4 separate regions of the Homo sapiens genome follow, and all the other regions are reported to be linked to region 3. The links are microRNA targets in miRTarBase. Many come from high-throughput screens and were not tested one by one. Region 3 holds a microRNA gene; each other region holds the end of a gene's coding sequence.

The links. Region 3 holds the annotated microRNA hsa-miR-3926 (UGGCCAAAAAGCAGGCAGAGA, at 1,741-1,761, shown strand). A microRNA usually pairs through its seed, bases 2 to 8, with sites in the 3' UTR of a target mRNA and lowers its output. Matches are read on the target gene's strand: a 7mer-m8 pairs with bases 2 to 8, a 7mer-A1 pairs with bases 2 to 7 and ends in A, and an 8mer does both.
Region 1: miRTarBase lists CDT1 as a target of hsa-miR-3926. Seed matches in the 3' UTR shown: 7mer-m8 at 2,634-2,640.
Region 2: the mRNA of GABRB2 is a reported target of hsa-miR-3926. Seed matches in the 3' UTR shown: 8mer at 882-889 and 7mer-A1 at 2,305-2,311.
Region 4: the mRNA of ZNF736 is a reported target of hsa-miR-3926. Seed matches in the 3' UTR shown: 7mer-A1 at 1,704-1,710.

The regions. Positions count from the first base shown.
Region 1 is chr16:88,807,951-88,811,004 of GRCh38, reverse strand. It overlaps CDT1 (chromatin licensing and DNA replication factor 1), which reads right to left. Exons shown (of 10, transcript NM_030928.4): 10 at 1,747-2,890. The coding sequence ends at 2,727. APRT (adenine phosphoribosyltransferase) reads left to right here. Exons shown (of 5, transcript NM_000485.3): 3 at 449-582; 4 at 857-935; 5 at 1,165-1,666. The coding sequence ends at 1,307. Among named protein-coding and RNA genes, the nearest start is that of APRT, 2.4 kb to the left of the region's middle. RefSeq lists an enhancer at 208-743.
Region 2 is chr5:161,291,291-161,294,384 of GRCh38, reverse strand. It overlaps GABRB2 (gamma-aminobutyric acid type A receptor subunit beta2), which reads left to right. Exons shown (of 10, transcript NM_001371727.1): 10 at 1-3,094. The coding sequence ends at 304. Among named protein-coding and RNA genes, the nearest start is that of GABRB2, 250 kb to the left of the region's middle.
Region 3 is chr8:12,725,502-12,728,596 of GRCh38, forward strand. It overlaps MIR3926-2 (microRNA 3926-2), which reads left to right and starts at 1,736; the gene lies at 1,736-1,798. It overlaps LONRF1 (LON peptidase N-terminal domain and ring finger 1), which reads right to left. Exons shown (of 12, transcript NM_152271.5): 11 at 226-378. MIR3926-1 (microRNA 3926-1) reads right to left here and starts at 1,803; the gene lies at 1,731-1,803. RefSeq lists an enhancer at 1,301-1,350.
Region 4 is chr7:64,348,702-64,351,796 of GRCh38, forward strand. It overlaps ZNF736 (zinc finger protein 736), which reads left to right. Exons shown (of 4, transcript NM_001170905.3): 4 at 1-3,095. The coding sequence ends at 446. Among named protein-coding and RNA genes, the nearest start is that of ZNF736, 36 kb to the left of the region's middle.

The DNA of each region.
Region 1 (3,054 bases), not on the chromosome of region 3:
CTCCCTTCTCACCTCCTGCAGGAAGCCCTCCCTGACCTCCTGCCAGGCCGGGGCAGGGTTTCCCTGAGCGTCCCCCAACCATCACAGCTCAGGCCACCTCGAGAGACTCCCTTTTTAGACAGAAGCCCTGGTGCAGAGCTGCCTTTGAGAGTAAGCTGAGGCCTGTCAGGTTTCTACCAGCCCAGTTACAGATGGGCTGCTCAGCTCAGAGAGAGGGGTGGTGACTCCCCTAGGAACACACAGCTAAGAAGTGGTCCCTTAAAAGACAGACCCAGGTCTGCACTCTGACCTGGAAGCAGCTCCGGGTAGGTGATGGGTAACATTCCTTAAATGGTGCATGTCACTGGCCTTTCAGCTGGGAGCCAACCAGGTACCCCTTGCCACCGGCCAACCCTGGCCCCTGGGGATTCCCATGCTGCCGAGTCACTCCTGTCACTTACCCTGACAGGCCTAGACTCCCGAGGCTTCCTCTTTGGCCCCTCCCTGGCCCAGGAGCTTGGACTGGGCTGCGTGCTCATCCGAAAGCGGGGGAAGCTGCCAGGCCCCACTCTGTGGGCCTCCTATTCCCTGGAGTACGGGAAGGTAAGAGGGCTGGGGTGGCCAGAGGAAGGGCAGGGCCAGGCCACCGTGGCCACTCTCCCCCAGTTCTAAAAGGCCTTCCCAGGCGTGTCAAGTGGAGCTGCTGTGGTTACAGTGGCCTTGGGAGCTCAGAGAGGTTGAGACATAGGCTGGGCTCACACAGCCAGGTAACAGCAAGGTGGGGTTGGAGTCAGGGTCTAGGGTGGCAGCTGCCAAGCTGTGCAACAAAGCTGTTTTCTGCGGGAGGCTGAGGACCACACACCACTTCCCACTCCAGGCTGAGCTGGAGATTCAGAAAGACGCCCTGGAGCCAGGACAGAGGGTGGTCGTCGTGGATGATCTGCTGGCCACTGGTGGTAAGGGTCTCCCCGCAGCCAACTGCTGTGGCTCCAAGGGCCTGGTGGGAGTGGGACAGGACCTCGCTGTGTGACATGGGATGCAGCTTACTGTTGTCCAGAGGGTGCCTGGTGGCCAGGCCGACACCTTCCTCTCCCCATGCCTTCCCCTCCCCAACCCAGGGGCTGGCCTGGAGCACCTGCTCTCTGCAGCCCAGGCCAACTGGGGACCTCACCCTCCCATCCCCAGGAACCATGAACGCTGCCTGTGAGCTGCTGGGCCGCCTGCAGGCTGAGGTCCTGGAGTGCGTGAGCCTGGTGGAGCTGACCTCGCTTAAGGGCAGGGAGAAGCTGGCACCTGTACCCTTCTTCTCTCTCCTGCAGTATGAGTGACCACAGGGCCTCCCAGCCCAACATCTCCAGCTGGATCCCAGGGAAATATCAGCCTTGGGCAACTGCAGTGACCAGGGGCACCGGCTGCCCACAGGGAACACATTCCTTTGCTGGGGTTCAGCGCCTCTCCTGGGGCTGGAAGTGCCAAAGCCTGGGGCAAAGCTGTGTTTCAGCCACACTGAACCCAATTACACACAGCGGGAGAACGCAGTAAACAGCTTTCCCACAAGAGCCGTCTCCTGTCCTCCTGTTCCCCAGGGCAGGGAGCCCCAGGACAACACCAGACTTCAGCTGTACTGTGGGCATGTGCTGCTTGGCGTGATGCCCAGCAGAACCTGTCCTGGTTCTCACCTCAGGAGCTAGAACCCTCCAGGCACTGCAGGAAGAGGCCATGTGGGCCCATCTTCTAGGGGAGCAAGCGAGGGCTCTTCTGCAGATCTAGTGGCTGTAAGCATGACTTTATTAGAGTTTAGGAGGTCAGAAATACTGAAGTCAAGGTGTGGGCAGAGGCCAGTCCCTTCTGGAGGCTCCAGGGATGTCCTACTTGTCCTGCCCAGCTTCTCCAGGCTGCCTGTGTCGGGGCAGGGCCGCGTCTTCAAAGCTGGCTGGCTCTGGCCCTGTCATGAAGGCCCTGTGATGACATGGGGCGTAGCTGGACAATTCAGGATCACCTCTCCAGTCTTGAAATTTTTTTTTTTGAGACGGAGTCTCGCTCTGTCACCCAGGCTGGAGTGCGTGCAGTGGTGCGATCTTCGCTCACTGCAAGCTGTGCCTCCTGGGTTCACACCATTCTCCTGCCTCAGCCTCCCTAGTAGCTGGGACGACAGGTGCCCACCACCACACCCGGCTAATTTTTTGTATTTTTAGTAGAGATGGGGTTTCACCATGTTCGCCAGGATGGTCTCGATCTCTTGACCTCGTGATCTGCCCACCTTGGCCTCCCAAAGTGCTGGGGTTACAGGCGTGAGCCACCACACCCACCCCAGTCTTTCTTAATGACAAAAGTCACCCTTTGCTGTGGGAGGTCCCATATTCAGAGGTTCCAAGATTAGAGGGGATGGCCTGCCACCCACACTACCCAACCCCATATTGCCACAGAGCCCCCTTCACCCCCAGCCACACTCCCGATGGCCCCCCAGGGGGTGCTGGATCTGGCTTCCCTTCCCCACCAGCAGCAAGGACAGAGGTGCCCACAGAAACCGGTTTAATGTGAATCCACCAGGTGAGCCCCATGAAGGGGCCCACCGCCCGCAGCCAGAGACCCTCGGGCTGTGCAGCCTGCAGCCCACATCTGCCTCTGGCCCTCAGGGGCGCTGGGGAAAGGAAGGCCAAAGTGTATCATGTTCATAAAAGAAAATGCTGGTGGGCCCAGGCCAGCGAGCTTCTGAAGCCCACGTCTGTCCACAGTGGCCCCCAGGCTCACAGCCCCTCCTCAGCACGTGTCTGGTGGGCCAGGCGTGCAGTGATGTGGGCGAGGTCCGCGGCCTTGTCCAGCTTGACGTAGGTGTCGGTGCGGATGCGGTGGAGGCTGAGCCAGTCCGGCAGCAGCTCGGAGAGGAGCAGCAGGTGCTTCTCCATTTCCCCTGGGGGAGGAGAGGAGGACACTGAGGCTGGTGCTGGGCCCCAGCCCTGCACGGGCAGCACTTGAAACCAGCCTGACCACCCAACCTCTGTGCCTGCCTGGTCGCCCTCAGGGCCCCATCACCAGGACTTAGGGCAGAGGTGGTTCTGATCAGAGGCCCAGGTC
Region 2 (3,094 bases), not on the chromosome of region 3:
AAATGAAATGGCCACATCTGAGGCTGTGATGGGACTTGGAGACCCCAGAAGCACAATGCTAGCCTATGATGCCTCCAGCATCCAGTATCGGAAAGCTGGGTTGCCCAGGCATAGTTTTGGCCGAAATGCTCTGGAACGACATGTGGCGCAAAAGAAAAGTCGCCTGAGGAGACGCGCCTCCCAACTGAAAATCACCATCCCTGACTTGACTGATGTGAATGCCATAGATCGGTGGTCCCGCATATTCTTCCCAGTGGTTTTTTCCTTCTTCAACATCGTCTATTGGCTTTATTATGTGAACTAAAACATGGCCTCCCACTGGAAGCAAGGACTAGATTCCTCCTCAAACCAGTTGTACAGCCTGATGTAGGACTTGGAAAACACATCAATCCAGGACAAAAGTGACGCTAAAATACCTTAGTTGCTGGCCTATCCTGTGGTCCATTTCATACCATTTGGGTTGCTTCTGCTAAGTAATGAATACACTAAGGTCCTTGTGGTTTTCCAGTTAAAACGCAAGTGATTTTTACACATGGTGGCTAGACAGCCTGAGTGCTCCATGTTGTCTGTTTAGTATGCAGCCTACTCAGAGGGGAATAATTTGGAAGATATTCTTAGAAGGCTCAACAGCATTGTCAGTCATTTGGTCATAACCAGATACTCCTCATCTTCCTTTTTAAGGTCGGCATGCTGTTGAGATGGCATTGTCCTTATGAAACATTATCTGTAATGCCATGCAAACACATTACTTGAAGATGATCTATGATTTTCTTACTGAGATGATAATGGTGTCATGGGAAGATTATTCCCACTGGTTTCTAAAAGATTCTCTTGTGATTTGAGCAGGCTAGGGGAATCAAGACAGAGACTCAGGAAACCGATTTGGCCAGTCCCTTTGCTTGAGCACGGAGAATCAACTATGATGTCTTTCATTTTGGCATTTAGAGATGAGGAGACTTCTGGACAATATCATGCATGGTGGCCAAGAAAATTTTTGCTAAACGGCTATTTCCTAGGTGGTTAAAGTAAGAGTTAACAACACAGAGCAGAGTAGAAAATCAGAAACGACGGTTGTAACAAAAAGCAAGCAAGCAAGAAAGCATGACCCTTATCAGCTCCACACAGCATCTGGTCTATACATACTGTGTCTAGTGGCAGAGGGTGAGTAAGAGAGATTGTTTTTCCAACATCACTAGCTTTTGACAGCATACCTAAAGAGGTTTTTATAGTTTAATCGAAGATAACCATGAAATACAAAAATTAGAGAAATGAGAATTGTCTTAGATATTCAGGTTAGATTCAGAGTCATTCAAATATACAAATACAGAGCACAAACTAGCAAACAGATTGTTTTTCTCAGACGAAGTCAGCTGTCCCTGCAATTTTTGTCCCTATAATTTTATTTCTTAATTTAATAGAGTATTTCAAGAGAAGGATTTGTTCATCACTTTAAAGGATTCATGGTCCTCTCCAGCTTTTTTTTTGCTTCCAAAATTCTGATTATATTCTTAGGAGACTGGCAAAGTAAGGCTTTGGAGAGATTGAGTGAACTATATTTTCTTATATGCAATGAAATTCACCATTGTATTTTTCAAAGCAAATAATACTTCAAGGAGTATGAACACACAGAGAGTTAATTTGTGCATTCATTGGTTTGGGGCTTGATTTTCTTAAGAGTGCTTTCATTGTATATGTTGCAATCTGCCTAATCAAGGAAAATATGAAAACTAGTGGAAAATAATAACAAAGCCACATTAACATGATAAATGTTATGAGCCTCAGTTGATATTGCAGAAAAATATATAACTGTTAATCAGGCAGGCATGATGTATTTTTTTTCTATTTTTAAGTTATGCCATTGTGCTTCTTTCTACACTAATTGGACATAAGCATTCATATGTTGGACAAGAGGAGAATAAGCTAATATGTCTTCCTTCTATCAATATAAGGCTCATATTTTGCTTTTCTTATAGAAAATAGTGAATTGCTAAATTTTCCTTAAAGTTGAATTTGATTGAACTTTTTCTTGGAGGATGACTTTGCTATTTCTATTTTGAAAACAAAGAAAGCTCTTCTTTTTAGAGTAATATCCCTAATTGTGCATAGCAGCCAGTATCCACCTGTGAATAATGTATGTTTTCTTGATTCCTTGTTTCCTTCATGATTTAGCAGCTTGGAATATGATGGAGTACTATTGCCCTTGCATTCCAGCTGTCCAAGAACAACAACAAACCTTTATCCTTCAGCTTTCTGAATTTGCCCCAAAATGGAATGGTATTTTGTTTTTCACCAGTGTAGGAAACCTTGGCCATTATATTTTGATTACATAATCTTGAGCACCTCTGAGTATCATCTTTGGGCAGAATCTGACCAAGATTCTTCTCACAGGCTCAGAGTAGAGATTCCTCATGTTTCTCCAGGACACACTTTCTCCTAGGCAATCATTTTGGGGCATCACACTAAGTAAAGTGCCTGCCCCTTGTCAACAGGGGGTAAAGTTTGACTAAAAAACATCAGGAAGGAACATATTGATAACTCAGGGGCACAACTCCAAAATGCCATTCTGAAAAGGCTCTTCTAGAGTCAACTCAGAGCCCAAGTGTAGAAGTGGGCTCTTATGTGCAATCACTGTACAAGCCATAAAAATCTTTGATATTGCCATTTATGATTACAACAAAATTTTAGATGTCCAAGAAAGTCAACAGAACAATCCAGATCAAAGTGTAGAGAAGCATCTTTGCAGCTTGAGCCTCAAAAGCATAAAACCAGGAATTCATTTCTGCTCTCAGTGATACAAGAAACAAGGCAAAGGAAAAAAGATGGGACCTTAGAAGCAATGCCCTAGAGTAAAAAGCATACATTGGCACTCAGTAACCACAGAGATAGAAACAACTGACTCAGCCTCTCCAGAAATAACAGTAGATGTAGAATTTGTTCTTAAATATATGTTTCGTTGAAATGAAATGCAGTCATCAAATGCGAGGAGGGGTGCTAGACCTGATAAGTCTAGGAAGACCAGTCAGCTTGATAGCCAGTTGTTAAACTAAAGGACCACAAAGGTGTGTTTAGTAGTTCTGATATGGGATTACTATCA
Region 3 (3,095 bases):
GGCATCTCAGCTGACACGTATTTCCAGCCTCTATCTGTACGGAATGTAGTGGAGACCACTGCTCTAGAGAACTCATGATTGCAAAGATGAGGTGGGGCTGGTGCGGGGGAGGGGACAGTCAAAGAAAAAGTAGTGCAGAAAGGACAATGAGAAAACAAATGTAGAAGTGTGCAAATTTGGGTTTATAAAAAAGTGACTTTTGGAAGAACAGAAAAGCCACCATACCTGAAGGTTTTCCTCCCTCTCGGGCATTGATCCGAAATGCTGAAGAATTTGGCTTCGAAATCTGTCTCTTAAATTCTGAAACCAGCTGCAGGCTTGAGAGTAAACCAAATCATGAAGCTCTCTGAGATTCTTAATCTCATCTTCATTCTCAACCTAGAAATACAATAGTCAGTAAGACTTCTGTGTCTAATCCCCCGTCCATATGCCATATGCCAACCGACACAAATGGAAAAAGGGATCAGAAGAACAGGGCAATACCTGTTTCAGTGCTGACGTCCCAGAGAGTATTATTCCTATGCTTTAATACACATTTCTGTCTCATATAGGGCTGACCAGACTAAAGAAAGACAACAAGGCCTGACCTATGCCTAACCTTGCTGACTTAGCAGTGCAATATTGCAGAACCCTACAACAGCCCTCAAGTGGGAAGAGTAAGATTGAGAGTGAGTTCTGGTTCAGAGGTCTAATTTGGAATTCCATTTGTCTTTATGGATCAATGGTTTTTGAAAGCAGTGGAACAAAAAAGTGGATGATAGTTGCTACAAAAAAAGAAAAGATAAGTAGTTAGGGTGTAGATGACATGACAGAAAGTAGTAACAGGAGGAGTCCAGGCACAGTTACATCTTTTACTAGGGAACTGGGTCAAAACACAAAAACAAACAAAAAGCTACAACAAATAAGTTAGCATATAAAGCCAGTATGTCAGAGAGTCAATTACACAATGATGAGCTTCTGCTGGCAAGGCCCAAGGCTATGGCTACCTCTGGAACCCCTCAGTGTATTCTTTAGACTACTGGGTCACCAAACTGCAAATGTAAAATTAATTGCATCAGGCTTCCAGCCTGAGATAGAAGAGTAGTCTCAGAGAACACAGGTGGGAAGATCTAAGTTTAACTCATCCATCTTATACTGATTTCTTTAATGCACACTTACATCCCACTTGCTACTTGCCAGGTCGTGCTCTGTCTCATATGCACAAACTCATCTGAAAAAATACCAGGCCTGACTCAGCCTTTCATACTTCAAGGATGACTCATTTAAAAACAACAAAGGGACTCTGAAAACATTTCGAAATATAAAAATAAGACTACAGCACACCAGAGACAAAAAAGCAAACTTTTTACTTTTGAAAGATTTGAAATGAAAACTAAAGTTTAAAGAGCATCTGTTTTTTGCATAACAATGTGAATGTACTTAATGCCACTGTGTGCACTCAAAGATGGTTAAAATGGTAAATTCTATGTATATTTTACCACAATAAAAATAAACTTTTAAAAAAGGTAGAGGAGCCACACAATTGAAGAATTTTGGTCCTGAAATGACTATACATGATTCAGGCCCCTGCTAACATACATTGATAGGAGCAAGAAACAAACTTATGCCTTGTTAAATCTTTTTTTTTTTTTTTTTTAAAGCATCTGCTCTGCACCCTCACAAAATTCAAGAAAACAAATGACAGGCTCTGGTAAACAAGGAATGATAACAATTATAAGCGTCAGTGATGAAAAACGGAGCTGGCCAAAAAGCAGGCAGAGACGCTTTTAAAGTCTCTGCCTGCTTTTTGGCCAGCTCCATTTTAAAAGCAAGCTTTTAAAGTCAAGGAACTTTACTGTGATAATTTTAACAGAACTTAAAATTTCATTAGAAGTCACAGAAAACAGAATTATTATAAGAAGAGGAAAATTTGCCATATAAAACAAATTTGAGAAGGTTTTCCAGAATGGACAAGAAAATCATTATATAGATGAAGACATGATGAGAAAAGATTACTAGACATTCCGAGGACCAAAGAGGACTCGTTTATAAATATCATATCTGTAATACTTTTAGAATGTGATTCTATTGCCTACATGTTTGTAAGTATTAATACATATAGTCATGTAATTTAGCCATATACTCAAGTGATTTTGTCATCAAATCCAATAAGTGAAGACATAAATTTACACAAAACTGAAATATGGTTATTAACTTTACAAAGAAGAACCTTTAGCAAGTGATTCCATTAACCAAGTATGCCTAAGGCACAGATTCTATCAATCAACTCAAAATTTCAACTCACACAATACTTTCGGCCAACTGCACAAGACAAAGTACCCCCATAGCATTTTTATAATAAGATAGGACTGCCAACGTCAGACTAATCAGGTTTATCAACAGAGAGCCAAATGGCATAGTGATAAAGCTCAAAGTCTGAGTCAGACAGTTTGCTTTAATCATTTTTGTTACATTATCTATAGGCTCTCAGGCAAATTAATTAACACCTCTGAATTGTACTTTCCTCATCTACTATTTCATAGAGTTGTGAAAATTCTATGAGTTAATGTTTGTGAAAATACCTAATGCCAATATCCAATAAATGCTGACGAAATGAAGGGCCTAAACAGATCAATGAATAAGAGAAGGGATAAGATCTATGTTTTTATAATGCCTTTCCAAAAGAAATTGCCTTCAATTTGGTATTTGTAGCATCATAAGTCACTTTTCCGGTTCCTAAACTAACTGCAGTAGGTAAACTGGGTATTGCAAACATCAAAAGGGCCACATTAACCCTATTCTAGAAAGACATCACAAAAACCCTACCCTGTTAAGATATCACCAACATGTACACTGGCAGTGCTTTCTATGTCTGCCCCAGGGTCTTCACACAGCATTCAACTCTATTTTATCATTAAGGTTATCTTAGGCACAAGAACAATCTTAATATATAAAACAATTCTTATAAGATTTGATGTGTTTACATTTACATCAAATTTCAATCTACTAATTCCATCGGCTTCAACTACTAATACATTCAATAAAACAGGGCAGAAATGTAAACCTTTCAAAACTTAGATGGGTTGGAAGTTCAACTTATTCAACCACTATTGTTA
Region 4 (3,095 bases), not on the chromosome of region 3:
CTGGAGAGAAACCCTACAAATGTGAAGAATGTAACAAAGCCTATAGGTGGTTCTCAGACCTTGCTAAACATAAGATAATTCATACTGGAGACAAACCCTACACATGTAATGAATGTGGAAAAGCTTTTAAGTGGTTCTCGGCCCTTAGTAAACATAAGAGAATTCATACTGGAGAGAAACCCTACATCTGTGAAGAATGTGGCAAAGCCTTTACCCGCTCCTCAACCCTTTTTAACCACAAGAGAATTCATATGGAAGAGAGACCTTACAAATGTGAAGAATGCAGCAAAACCTTTAAGTGCTTCTCAGACCTGACTAATCATAAGAGAATTCACACTGGAGAGAAACCCTACAAATGTGAAGAATGTGGCAAAGCATCGAGCTGGTTCTCACACCTCATCAGACATAAGAGAATTCATACTAGAGAGAAGCTCCACAAGTGTTAAAAATGTGGAAAAGCCTTTACCAAGTCCTCATACTGTGTTCAACATCTGAAATTTAATACTGAACAAATGCAGTATAAATGTAATGACAGTGGAAGAACATTTATCATCTTAGAGGGTCTCTAAGAACTTACTTTATAATCTGGTTGCTTATATGTTGGGTACATATATAGCCCTTTGCTATTATGTAATGCCCTTTTTTTTTAAATCTATGTTAATTTCAAGTCTGTTTTGTCAGAAACTAGGATTGCAACCCCTGCTTCTTTTCCTGTTTTCTATTTGCTTGGTAGGCTTTTCTTTTTCCCTTTATTTTGAGCTTATTTGAGATGGGTGTCTTGATTAAAGCATACCATTAGATCTTGATTCTTTTTTCAGCTTGCCATCTGTGCTTTAATTTGGGTATTTAGCCCATTTACATTTAAGGTTAGTATTCATATGTGTGGATTGGATTCTGTTATTAGGATCTTAGCTGGCTATTTTGCACATTTGTTTCTGTGGTTGCTTTATAGTGTCCACAGTTTGTATACTTTAGTGTGCTTTTGTAGTGACTGGTAATAGTCTTTTTCTTATTTAATGCTTTCTTCAGAAGCTCTTTTAAGACAGATCCTGTGGTAACATTTTCTCAGCATTTGCTTGTCTGAATAGGATCATATATATTTTTTACTTCTGAAGCTTACCTTGGTCAGATATGAAATTCTGTGTTGGAATTCTTTTTTTAAGAATGTTGAATATTGGCCCCTATAATCTCTTTTGACTTGTAGGATTTCAGCTGAAAGATTTGTTGTTTTCCTGATGAGCTTCTTTTTAGAGGTGACCTGGCCTTTCTCTCTAGCTGCCTTTAACATATTTTTTCTTTCATTTTGACCCTGGAGAATCTCATGATTATGTGTCTTGAGGATGACCTTCTCCTGGGGTATCTTACTGGGGTTCTCCACATTTCCTGCATTTGAATGTTGGCCTCTCTAGGTTGGGGAAGTTCTCATGGATGTTATCCTGAAATACGTATTTCAAGTTGTTTTCATTCTCCCCATCACTTTCAGGCAATCTCTTGCATCATAGATTTGGTTTCTTTACATAATCCCATATTTCTTAGAGGTTTTGTTCATTCCTCTTTATTCTTTTTTCACTGTTCTTGTCTGTCTGATTTCAGAAAGCCAGTCTTGAGGCCCTGAGATTCTTTCCTCTGCTTGGCCTATTCTGCTGTTAATATATGTGATTACATTATAAAGGTTTTGTATTGTGTTTTTCAGTTCTATCAGGTTGGCCACATTTTTTCTCCAGACTGGCTGTTTTTTCCGTCAGTTCCTGCAATTTTTTTTCCTCCCTTGCATTGGGTTGCAAATTACTTTTGTAACTCAGTGAAGTTTGTTTCTACCCATATTCTGAATTCTACTTCTGTCATCTTAGGCCTTGCTGGAAATGTAATTTGGTCATTTGGATGAAAGAAGTCACTCTGGCTTTTTGTGTTTTTATCTTTGCACTGATTGTGTCTTATCTTTGTGGGCATATCTTTGAGGTTGCTGACCTTTGGGCTTTTTTTTTTTTAATCCTATTTGATGGTCTTGAGTATTTGATTGTGGTATAAGATGGATGCAGCCAACAGGCTTTGTTCCTGGGAGGTTTTTTTTGTTTTGTTTTGTTTTGTTTTGTTTTGTTTGGTGGTGGTGGTGGGTGGGCAATGCTCAGCTCACAACTCAGAGGCTGCATACTCTAACTCCGGGGGACTTGTTTTGAGCCCCAACTGTGTTCTCTGGCTCCTTGAGATTTGGAGTTTGCGAGTTTGTGGGATGAAGGTGCCATAGCTGGAGCAGAGTGCTAGTGGATATGGGATTTCTGCCTGTCTTTGGGTACTCACCTCAGTGGCAGGAGCAAAGCAGCTGGGAAGGGAGTGGGGGATACCTGCTGGAGGCTGTGTGCTGTTGCACTAAAGGTGGTGTTGGCTTGGGGCAGGATACTGGCCAGTAAAGGTTTTGATGCCTTCTCTGTGCCCCCCAAGAAAGAGTGATTGTTCAGAGTGTGGGAGGTTACCCTGTTCTCTGCACAGTGTTAGCACAAAGGCAGGGGTGGAGTTTTCTGGCTCTCTGCCCACCAAAGTTTCATCTACAATGGCAGTTGCTGGGGGTGGCGGGGCATATTGCATTCCCATTTGCTGGTGGGGCAAGCAAAGCCAAACCTGCCTTTGCAGACATGTGCCAGCAAAGAAATATCAGGAGTTGCCATGGTGTCACGGGAAGCTGCAGTATGGGGAAGAAATGTGGGCTGGTGCAGTCATAGGGGCTGCTTTGCTGGAGCTCTTCATGAGTCAGGCATGTCCCTCCAGTGCAGATGCTCTGGTATGAGCTTCCAGGGTACCTGAGACTGCCCTGTAAGCAGCTGTGGCCAGACTGGGTCCCTGGGAGAGGCCAGCAGACCAAGGAGTGCTCAGTTGGACCAGCTTCTTCTGATTTGCAAGACCATCCTGCAGAAATTAGGCCCAACAGTTCCCGTAGGGCTAAAGTCTCTTATGGGAGACAGTTGAGCCTAGAGAAATGGCCATCACTGGCCACACTTTACTACAGATGCTCTTGCACCAAACCCTCTGGCCACCACATGAGCTGGCTTGCTGCATTATCTCTTTGCTTGTCTTCTGGGGGCTGCATCTCAGAGAGATGT